Regions from separate parts of the Homo sapiens genome. Here region 2 is linked to region 1. Evidence: fine-mapped QTL for protein levels in blood plasma. A gene starts in region 1. The other region holds a variant in brackets. All regions are shown on one strand. Distances are from middle to middle.

Region 1 (5,389 bases):
GTGGGCAGATTACCTATGGTCAGGAGTTCGAGACAAGCCTGGCCAATGTGGTGAAACCCCATCTCTACTAAAAATACAAAAATTAGCTGGGTGTGATGGCACATGCCTGTAATCCCAGCCACTTGGGAGGCTGAGGCAGGAGAATCGCTTGAACTCGGCAGGCAGAGATTGCAGTGAGCTGGGATCACACCACTGCACTCCAGCCTGGGCAAGTGAGTGAGACTCTGTCTCAGAAAAAAAAAAAAAAGAAAATTATTGTTCATTTATTTTAGATGTGATGATGGTATTGTGGTATTATATTTGTTTAATAGTCTCTGTCTTTTAAAGACACACACAGGGACATTTACGTATGAAATGACAGAATGTCTAGAATTTATTTAATATAATTCAGGTAGTGAGAGTGGGAATATAAATAAAATAAGATTGGCCATGTACTGATCATTGTTGAAACAAGACAATGGTTTCACGGCAGCTCATTTTACTACTATTTTTACTTTTACATGTGTTTTAAATTTTCCATAAGCAGTATCTTTTTAAAAAAAACTGTATGGCTACAAACACAAACATGTCTACTACAGCTGAGATGAATCAACATTATAATGATGTTACTTCTCCCTAAATTTATGCATATATTCAAATAAAAACTCTAATAGCCAGATGTGGGGGCTCATGCCTGTAATCCCAGCACTTCAGGAGGCCAAGGTGGGCAGATTGCTTGAGCCCAGGAGTTTGAGGCCAGCCTGGGCAACATGGTGAAACCCCTTATCTACAAAAAACAAAAAACAAAATCAGCCAGGCATGGTGGTGTGCACCTGTAGTCCCAGCCACTCCAGAGGCTGAGGCGGGAGGATCACTTGAGCCCAGGAGGTCAAGGCTGCAGTGAGCCATGATTGCATCACTGCACTCCAGCCTGGGTGACAGAATGAAACCCTGTCTCCAAAAGAAAAAAGCAAAAAACTCCAACAGAGTTTTTCAGGGAACTTGATAAACTGATTCAAAAAATTCATATAAAGAAGAGTTAACAAGTACAAAATACAAAGACAATGTTTAAAAAGAAGAACAAAGATAGGGTGGCCTAGATGACTTGCCTTACCATACGTGGAGACATATTACAAAGCTGTTTTAATTAAAACTGTGTGATACTGAAGTAGCAAAAGATAAAAAGAACAGCTTCATGAGCTCAGAAACTGACCTATCTATGTATGAGAATTTGGTGTACAATAGAGGTAGAATCAAAATTGGAAAACAAAGAAAATAAGCTCCCTACGTCATACCATACACAAAACTAAATTCCAGGTGAATTAAACACCTAAAAGCAGTAGCCATAGAAAAGATAAATAAAACACTCTCTGAAAGTATAAAAATAAGATGAGTGTATCTTTATTACATTTGGATGAGGAAAATTTTCTTATACAAAAACAGTATAGATTGATTATACGGAAAAGCTGAATAAAATGTTCTACCTCAACATAAAAAAATTTCATATAGAAAAACTCACTATAAACAAGACTAAAGGACAAGTGGAATTTCATAGGCTTATGCAAAGGAAGAAAAAATAAAATAAAAGACAAGTGGAAGACTAAGGGAGGATGTTTTTAAGGGTATATAACTGTCAAAGATTAGAAGCCAGAATATATTTTTAAAACACATACACCTTGGCCGGGCACGGTGGCTCACACCTGTAATCCCAGCACTTTGGGAGGCTGAGGCGGGTGGATCACGAGGTGAAGAGTTCAAGACCAGCCTGGCCAAGATGGTGAAACCCTGTCTCTACTAAAAATACAAAAATTAGCTGGACATGCTGGCAGGTGCCTGTAATCCCAGCTACTTGGGAGTCTGAGGCAGAGAATCGCTTGAACCTGGGAGGTGGATGTTGCAGTGAGCCAAGATCGCACCAATGCACTCCAGCATGGGAGACAAAGCACGACTCCGTCTCGGAAAACACACAACACACACACACACACACACCTCCCACAAATCACTAAGAAAATGCAACAATACAATAGAAAAATGAGCAAAAAAGATGAACAGGAAATTCACAGAAAATTCAAACGGTCAATAAATGTGTGAAAAGATCCTCAACCTCATTAGTAATTAGGAAAATGCAAATTTAAAAGATGATAGTTCGTCTTGCTCCCACCCCACCCAGGTAATCATTCTCAATTGGATATATTTGAGTGTATCCTTTTTTCCATGAATATACTAACACATACACACACACACACACACACACACGCATATTACTAAACTATACATATAGTATATATTAATAAAGACATTTTGAGTTTGATGAACGAAGGAATGGCTGAGTGAGAACCAGACAATATCAGATCATGAATGAGTTGTGTTAAAAGCAGTAAGACAGGTTTTCCTAGGAAATCATACAAGGAGCTGGGATTTGGGGAGCTTTATCTAAATCTCTTTATAACTAAATGTTTTCCATGTAAAAGTTGGTGTTTTTAAAATTCAATTTAATTTTTTTTTTGAGATAGGGTCTTGATATGTCATCCAGGCTGAAACACAGTGGCATAATCATGGCTCACTGCAGCCTTGTCCTCCTAGACTCAAGCAATTCTCCCACCTCACCCTCCCCCTCAGCTGGGACTACAAGCATGCACCACCATGCCCAGCTAATTAAAAAAAATTTTTTTGCAGAGACAGGGTCTCACTATATTGCCTAGGCTGGTCTTGAACTCCTGGCCTCAAGTGATCCTCCCGCCTCAGCCTCCCAAAGTGCTGGGATTATAGGCATGAGCCACTGGGCTCAGACAAGGGCTCTTCTTGATGGCTTACTGTATCCACTTTGTCCCCAAGACCATAGGGAAATGACTAGAGGTGACTGTACTAGCTAGATTTTAAATGAAACTGAAATGAAAGTTCACTTCCTCATTTTGAGTACCTCATGTGACAAGTTCCAATTTCTTTTCAAGTCAATTGAACTGAAATCTCCTTGTTGCTTTGAAATCTTAGAAGAGAGCCCACTAATTCAAGGACTCTTACTGTGGGAGCAACTGCTGGTTCTATCACGTATGTACTCTTTGTTCTTTTTCTCCCATTTGGTCTTCAAACACTCTGTGTTTGTAACTTGTTCTGCCTGCTAGGTTTTAAATCTTTGGTTTCAGGAAGTAAACTAAAAAATCGTGTCGTTCAATTTGCCTCTTCTCTATTTTTAAAAAGTTAATGTCTGCTTGAGCATCTAAGCATCTAAGTTGAGACTGAAACATGGCTTTCTTTGGAATATAATTTAAAGGCTTACATGTTTAAAATTCCAGATGTTTTCAATTAAAAAGAAATGGAAAAGAAAGTAGAATCCAGTTTGAGGGAGCTAGTCGCTGAATTTCTGTTGATGTCTCTTGAATTAAATACAGAAGTGGCATTTTAAAGAGTAGTTAATTGCCTCATTTGAAACAGATGTCTGATCATTAAAAAAAAAAAAACGTAAAAAGGAAAATTACCTACCTAAAGATGTGAAAGCAATAGATGAGAATTGTCTTTTAACTATCTGTAAAGACTGTGGATATTTAAACAGGTCAGTTAAGAAGAGCCCATGTATTCAAAAATTCAGGAGATAAACTGATTTTTCAGAGGTTTGTCTCTCTTAAGGATGATTTTTTTTTTTTTTTGAGAGAGAGAGAAAGAGATTTCCTTTGATTAGATTTGTTGGCAAATCCTGGAAAGTCCCTGTTTTCTAACCCTCTAGATGTGTTTGGTTTACCAGATATTGGGAAATTCCTGGAAATCACTTTTTAAAGTGCTACTAAGCATTGGAAGTAGTATTTCTGACATAAATCTGCAGCTGTTCCCTGTGACTATATATCCCAGGAATTTTCCTGTATAATTCTGTTTATAATAGTCTGTCCCTTTGATAGACTTTGCATTGTTATTTTCTCTTATGAAAACATGTGGTCACAACATATGCAGCTAATAGCAACACTTCCTATGTTACCTTTCCTTACACAGAATGAAACGGCTGGTTTGTGTGCTCTTGGTGTGCTCCTCTGCAGTGGCACAGTTGCATAAAGATCCTACCCTGGATCACCACTGGCATCTCTGGAAGAAAACCTATGGCAAACAATACAAGGAAAAGGTAGATTGGATTGCCACTCGAGCGATATGCTTTTAAAGGAGTACTGTTTTCTACCTCTTAAAATTGTGTTCTTACAGGCAGTGTTTTCAGTAAATATTTAAGCTGGGTGTGGTGGCTCGCGCCTGTAATCCTAGCCCTTTGGAAGGCCAAGGTGAGCGGATCACCTGAGGTCAGGAGTTCGAGACCAGCCTAGCCAACATGGCGAAACCCCATCTCTACTAAAAATACAAAAATTAGCTGGATGTGGTGGTGGGCGCCTGTAATCCCAGCTACTCGGGAGGCTGAGGCAAGAGAATCACTTGAGCCGGGAAGGCGGAGGTTGCAGTGAGCCAAGATTGTGCCATTGCATTCCAGCCTGGGTGACAGAGTGAGACTCCATCTCAAAAATAAATAAATAAATATTATGTACTTGTTTCTTGCCAGATACTGTTCTTGGTACCATACAGCAGGAATCAAAACAAAATTCCTGTTATGGAGCTTATATTATAGTGAGAGAGACAGGAAATAAGAAAATAAACAAGCAGATATGTAGTATGCTAGATGGTGATAAGTGTTGTAGATAAAAATAACAGAAGGCATGGAGAGTAGGAAGGGCCCTGGGTGGTGGTGGTGGTAAGAAGTCTATCTATATGACAGGAGGGTTAGGGAAGGCCTCACGGATAAGGGTGCCATTTGAGCAGAGAATTGATGGAAGCCAGGGAGCAAGCAAAATACATAATAGAGTGAAGGTCTCAGGCCAAGGGCAAATCAGCACAAGCTCCTGAGGAAGGGCCACATTTGGGATGGCTGAGGAGCGAAAAGGCGTTAATACCCACATAGTGTGGCCAGATATTGTTTCTTGACTATCACTTCCCATTTTGTACTTTTGTTTTTATTTCAAAGCACACTTGCTGATGTTAAGACCTTAACCCTACTGCTTTAAATAACTAAGTCCTGTAACTATGTAATATTTCTGTTTGTAAGCTAGCATCATATATTTATTTATTTGACATATTATTTTGTATAAAAATGACACTCTTAGGTCATACACTCTAAGTTTTATTTTTATTTATTTATAATTAAATAATAATTGTGTCTATTTATGGAGTACAATGTGATGTTATGATACAAATATACATTGCAGAATGATTAAATTAGGCTAATTAACCTATTCAGCACCTCACATACTTATCCTTTCATTGTGATAAGAACATTTAAAATCTACCCTTTCAGTAATTTTGACATATAAAATACATTATTATTATTATCTGTAGTCACCATGCTATGCAATAGATTGCTAGAATGTAGTCTTCTTGTCAAATG
Region 2 (5,389 bases), 50 kb after region 1:
TCAGTGACCAAAGAGAAAAATCAATGTAATCTATCCATGTGTTATGCATTTACAGACAGTTAATCTGCAAGGGGATTCTTAAGATTTTTAGGTACTTTTTGAGCTGAGGCTGAGGTGAGAGGATTGCTTGAGCGCAAGAGTTTGAGGTCAGCCTGGGTAACATAGTGAGATCTCATCTCTACAAAAAAAAAAAAAAAAAAAATTAGCCAGGCATGGTGGTGCAACGCCTGTAGTCTCAGCTACTTTAGAGGTTGTGCGAGGATATATGAAATGTCTAGAATAGGCAAATTTATAGGGACAGATAGGCTAATGGGTAGGACGTGGGATGGGATAAGGGACAGGGAGTGATTGCTAATTGGTATGGGTTTCCTTTTTGGGATGAAGAAAATGTTATGAAATTGGTGGTGATTGTTGCACACACACCTCTGTGAATAAACTAAAAACCATTAAACTGAAAAACACTTTATATGGGTGTCCCAAAAAGGTGTTTTTAAAATACCAGCCACTATTAACATTTGTTTTATTCATCCTCAAAATACAAGCATTTGATATATTTGAATATAATCTGAAGAATTATATAATGATTATATACTTTTTTTTTGAGATGGAGTCTCGCTTTGTCACTCAGGCTGGAGTGCAGTGGTGCGATCTTGGCTCACAGCAACCTCTGCCTCCTGGGCTCAAGCAATTCCCTGCCTCAGCCTCCCAAGTGCTGGGATTACAAGAGTAGCTGGGTTTACAGGTGCCTGCCACCACGCCCAGCTAATTTTTGTATTTTTAGTAGAGACAGGGTTTCACCATTTGGCCAGGCTGGTCTTGAACTCCTGACCTTGTGATCCACCCGCCTCAGCCTCCCAAAGTGCTGGGATTACAGGCGTGAGCCACTGCACCCGGCCTATACTTTTTTAATGAAATACTTTGTGCCCATCAACTTGCATCCAATGGAGGTTGTAGGCAGCTGTGATTGTGCCACTGCACTCCAGCCTGGGCAATACAGTGAGATCCTGTCTCAATTTTTTTAAAAATAAAAAAAAAAAATTAAAAGATTTTTAGATACTTTTTGCATATGTCCTTTAGGCTATTACCCTAGAAATACCCTCACATTTTACATGCCGCTCTGACTTTTGGGGGATTACTAACCAATATAGGGAGGAATTCTTGGGGTGAGTACTATGATTATACAAAATTGGATATATGTTAAGTCAAGAGAAACTTTATTTTTAATAAATTTAAATAAAGTGTTCTACTTTCCCTTGAATTTTAGAGTGCACTGGTATTTCCCAATAAGATATCAACTGAACACCAGTCTTTGGTGTTAGTGAAGAGGCTTCTAGCAGTTTCAGTATCCTGTATCACGTATTTGAGGGGAATATTCCCAGAATGCGCTTATGGAACAAGATATCTAGATGGTAATACAATATTTATTTTAAAGCTTTCTTTTAAAATGGTATTTTTATTTTTGCTTGCTCCAAAACTATAATTTTTGACTTAGAAATTTTATTTTAATAGAAGCTTTATTAATACAATTCACGTACCTGACAGTTCACTTGTTTAAAGTGTACATTTCAATGATTTTTTTTTTTTTTTTTTTTGAGACGGGGTCTCGCCCGGGCTGGAGTGCAGTGGTGCCATCTCCGCTCACTGCAAGCTCCACCTCCTGGGTTCACGCCATTCTCCTGCTTCAGCCTCACGAGTAGCTGGGACTACAGGCGCCCGCCACCACGCCCGGCTAATTTTTTGTATTTTTAGTAGAGACGGGGTTTCACCGTGTTAGCCAGGATGGTCTCGATTTCCTCACCTTGTGATCTGCCCGCCTCGGCCTCCCAAAGTGGTGTGATTACAGGCGTGAGCCACCGCGCCCGGCCCATTTCAATGATTTTTAATAAATTAACAGATTTGTACAACCATCACCACAGTCAATTTTAGAACATTTCTTCATCCCAAGAAGAAACTCCATACCCCTTAAGGCACTGTGCACTTCCCCTCAACCTTCCCAGTCCTAGGCAATCACCAATCTACTTTCTGTCTGTACAGATTTACTTACTCTGGACATTTCATATAAATGAAATAATATAAAATGTGGTCCTGGCCGGGTGCAGTGGCTCACGCCTGTAATCCCAGCACTTTGGGAGGCCGAGGCGGGCGGATCACAAAGTCAAGAGATGGAGACCATCCTGGCCAACATGGTGAAACCCCGTCTCTACTAAAAATACAAAAATTAGCCGGGCATGGTGGTGCATGCCTGTAGTCCCAGCTACTTGGGAGGCTGAGCAGGAGAATCGCTTGAACCCGGGAGGCGGAGGTTGCAGTGAGCCGAGATTGTGCCACTGCACTCCAGCCTGGCAACAGAGCAAGACTCAGTCTCAAAAAAAAAAAAAAAAAAAAAAAAAAAAAAAGTGGTCCTTTGTGACTGGCTTTCACTTAGCATGTTTTCAAGGTTCCTCCGTATTGTAGCATGGATCAGTGCTTCATCCCTTTTTGTTGCTGAATAATGTTCTATTGCATGGCTGTACCACATTTTATTTATCCCTTTATTAGTTGATGAACATTTGGGTTCTCTTTTTGGCTATTATGAATAATGCCGCACTGATGTACAAGTTTTTGTTTTTGTTTGGATAACTAAATGGTTTTAAAATATATACATATATATATAT[ATT/T]CAATACCTTTAGAAGCACTTAATCATAAAATTTTTCCTCAGTTTCTCAAGTATAATTTTACCTGAAATTATGCTTATAATGATGAAAGAAATCAATAGAAAACATACAGTAGTAGTGTATGTTCTTGTGCTATTTTAAGGAAGTAAAAATAATACAGCCAGGGCCAGGCGTGGAAGCTCACGTCTGTAATCCCAGCACTTTGGGAGGCTGAGGCAGGAGGATCACTTGAGGCCAGGAATTCAAGACCAGCCTGGTCAACATAAGGAGACTCCATCTCTATTTTTTAAATTAAAATAATAATAATAATACAGCCAGTTTATACTACAATAATAACTTATTTCTCAGTACATTATACATGCATAATATTGTACACCAGTTATGTGCTGGGCAATATGTTAAGCACTATGTTATATACGATATCTTGTTAATTCATGTAGCAGTCTTACAAATACCTGTTTTTCAATTAAGGTACCTGAGGATATGAGAGACTCTCAGTCTTTTCCACTGTGTTACATGTTGCTTCTTTGCAGGCCTCTTTGTTTTTGATAGCCCGTTAAGTTCTTGGCCTTTACAAGTATTTTACTGGGATAAGATTCTAAGATTCTTGTATAACAATGGCATGAAAGCAACATATCTAATTTCATGGATTCTATAAGTTTTTTATGAAATATTTTTGTACCCATCAGCTTGCATCCTAATTATTATGATGGCATCTTATAATAAATATTAAAATACTACTTTCATATAACCTTTCTTCCTTTAATTACATTAATAATATTAATTATTGCTATTAATAATTTACCTGTGCTGGGCAAGGTGGCTCACGCCTGTAATCCCAGCACTTTGGGAGGTTGAGGCAGGCGGGTCACCTGAGGTCAGGAGTTCGAGACTAGTCTGCCCAACATGAGGAAACCCTGTCTCTACCAAAAAATACAAAAATTAGCCGGTCATGGTGGCGCACCTGAAGTCCCAGCTACTGGGGAGGCTGAGGTGGGAGAATGGCTTGAACTCGGAAGGCAGAAGTTCCAGTGAGCCGAGATCATGTCACCGCACTCCATCCTGGGTGATAGAGTGAGACCCTGTCTCAAAATAATAATAATTATAATAATAATTTACCTGTAATACACAGCAGAAGAAAATAAACTTCATTTAAAATTTCTAGTTGTTTACTTTTCTTAAGTAACTCTATATTTCATCATTTTTGTGTTTAGATCTTTGTGTCAAAATACTGAGAGAAGATAAAAATTGCCCAGGATCTACACAGTTAGTGAAATGGCAAGTAAAAGAATACCTAAAGAGAGAAAATTATTTTTTTCTCATTTTACTTTTTTTTGTACCTTGGATACCTTTGGTGTTTAACCAAATTTTAGTGAATCACCCTTTAATGCTAGATAGCATTTTTGTAGGTCATTAAATTTTCCACCGAAGTTTTCCTCTCCTTGAAGTCTGGGTATTTGGAAAAATAAATTTTAAAAATAAATGTTTCTTTATTTTGTGCCCCATGCAAGCAGGCTTTATTTATTTTATTATTGTTCCCCACAAATAGCTGTCAGATATTTTGTATTTTCCCTTCCATCTCTATCATCATTTTACATTTCTGCCACATTGTTTTTTATGTTTTGTCTTGTTTTAAGCTAGTTAATAAGAAGGGAGCTTTAATAAGACATTTTTGTATTATTTAGTAATGAGATAATATGGAAATTTATGAAAATAACTATTTTCTGGAAATGCATTCAGTCTAAAAATGAATCCTTGATTTTTTTTTTAGGATGCTAGGATGTTATGATGCTTTACAGAAAAAATATGTAAGTCTTGCAATCTCTTTATCCTTTTTTTTCTACAGTTTATGATCTACAAATATAACTGGAGTTATGATGTAGTAAAACATTCATTTGAACTAACTTGAGTGTAGGTCAGTCTGAATTACTGAAAAGCCTAAACATTTGAATATTTTAAAGACTAATCATCAACTCATTTAAAGATAATGGAATTAACACTAAACAAATTTTTCCAAGCTAGTTTTTTTAACACTTATTTGTATTAATAACACGTGTTAACTTACAAAAAAGTTAATGAATTAAAGAGTCTTTTCAAATAGTTTATTCATTAGTTTCACATGCCTTCTACAAGCTTGTTTATACTAATAATTTAATAAATTATTTCCTTATTAGGGTTCAAAAATAAATTTCCACATAATCTAGGTTAAATTGTCACAAATTCTGAATTAGCAAAATTAAGAAGGTTTTAAGATGTATTGTAATCCTTTTTGCATACTTAGTATAATTTAGTACCAACTTGCATAATGAAGTCCAGCACTAGGCTAATTGTGAAGAAGATGAAATTTTTTTTTTTTTGAGATGGAGTCTTGCTCTGTCGCTCAGGCTGGAATGCAGTGGCACCATCTCGGCTTACTGCAAGCTCCGCCTCCCAGGTTCACGCCATTCTCCTGCCTCAGCCTCAAGAAGATTAATTTTTATTCATGGTTCCTAATCTTCCCCATTAAGGCGTAGTAAATATTGAGCGCCCGTTATGTGTTAGGCATCTCTTCTAGGTAGGAACTGGGTAAGCTAACAGTGATCAACAAAACAAAAAAGGTCCCTTGTAAAGTAGGAAAACAAGTAGTTAATAAAACAAATCATATACTTTTCAATAATGTTAAATTGCCATTAAAATTTTTAGCAAAAGTATGTGGTAAATGGAAAGGTGAAGTAACTTTAGATGGGATGGTCATA

What was found. PIP is the chance, under the fine-mapping model, that this variant and not a neighbour inherited with it causes the effect. The UK Biobank Pharma Proteomics Project read protein levels with antibody pairs (Olink). The fine-mapping took linkage between variants from a reference panel, not from the people measured, so its PIPs are less certain.
Region 2: its variant is fine-mapped to the plasma level of the CTSS protein (UK Biobank, PIP 0.97).

What each region holds. Positions count from the first base shown.
Region 1 is chr1:150,763,336-150,768,724 of GRCh38, reverse strand. It overlaps CTSS (cathepsin S), which reads left to right and starts at 2,947. Exons shown (of 8, transcript NM_004079.5): 1 at 2,947-3,027; 2 at 3,961-4,087. The coding sequence starts at 3,962. RefSeq lists cis regulatory regions at 3,001, 3,004 and enhancers at 2,929-3,073, 2,932-3,076, 4,007-4,056, 4,768-4,857.
Region 2 is chr1:150,713,158-150,718,546 of GRCh38, reverse strand. It overlaps HORMAD1 (HORMA domain containing 1), which reads left to right. Exons shown (of 15, transcript NM_032132.5): 3 at 1,265-1,409; 4 at 3,869-3,932; 5 at 4,426-4,462. Among named protein-coding and RNA genes, the nearest start is that of HORMAD1, 5.0 kb to the left of the region's middle. The variant ATT/T (reference allele first, on the strand shown) is at 2,655.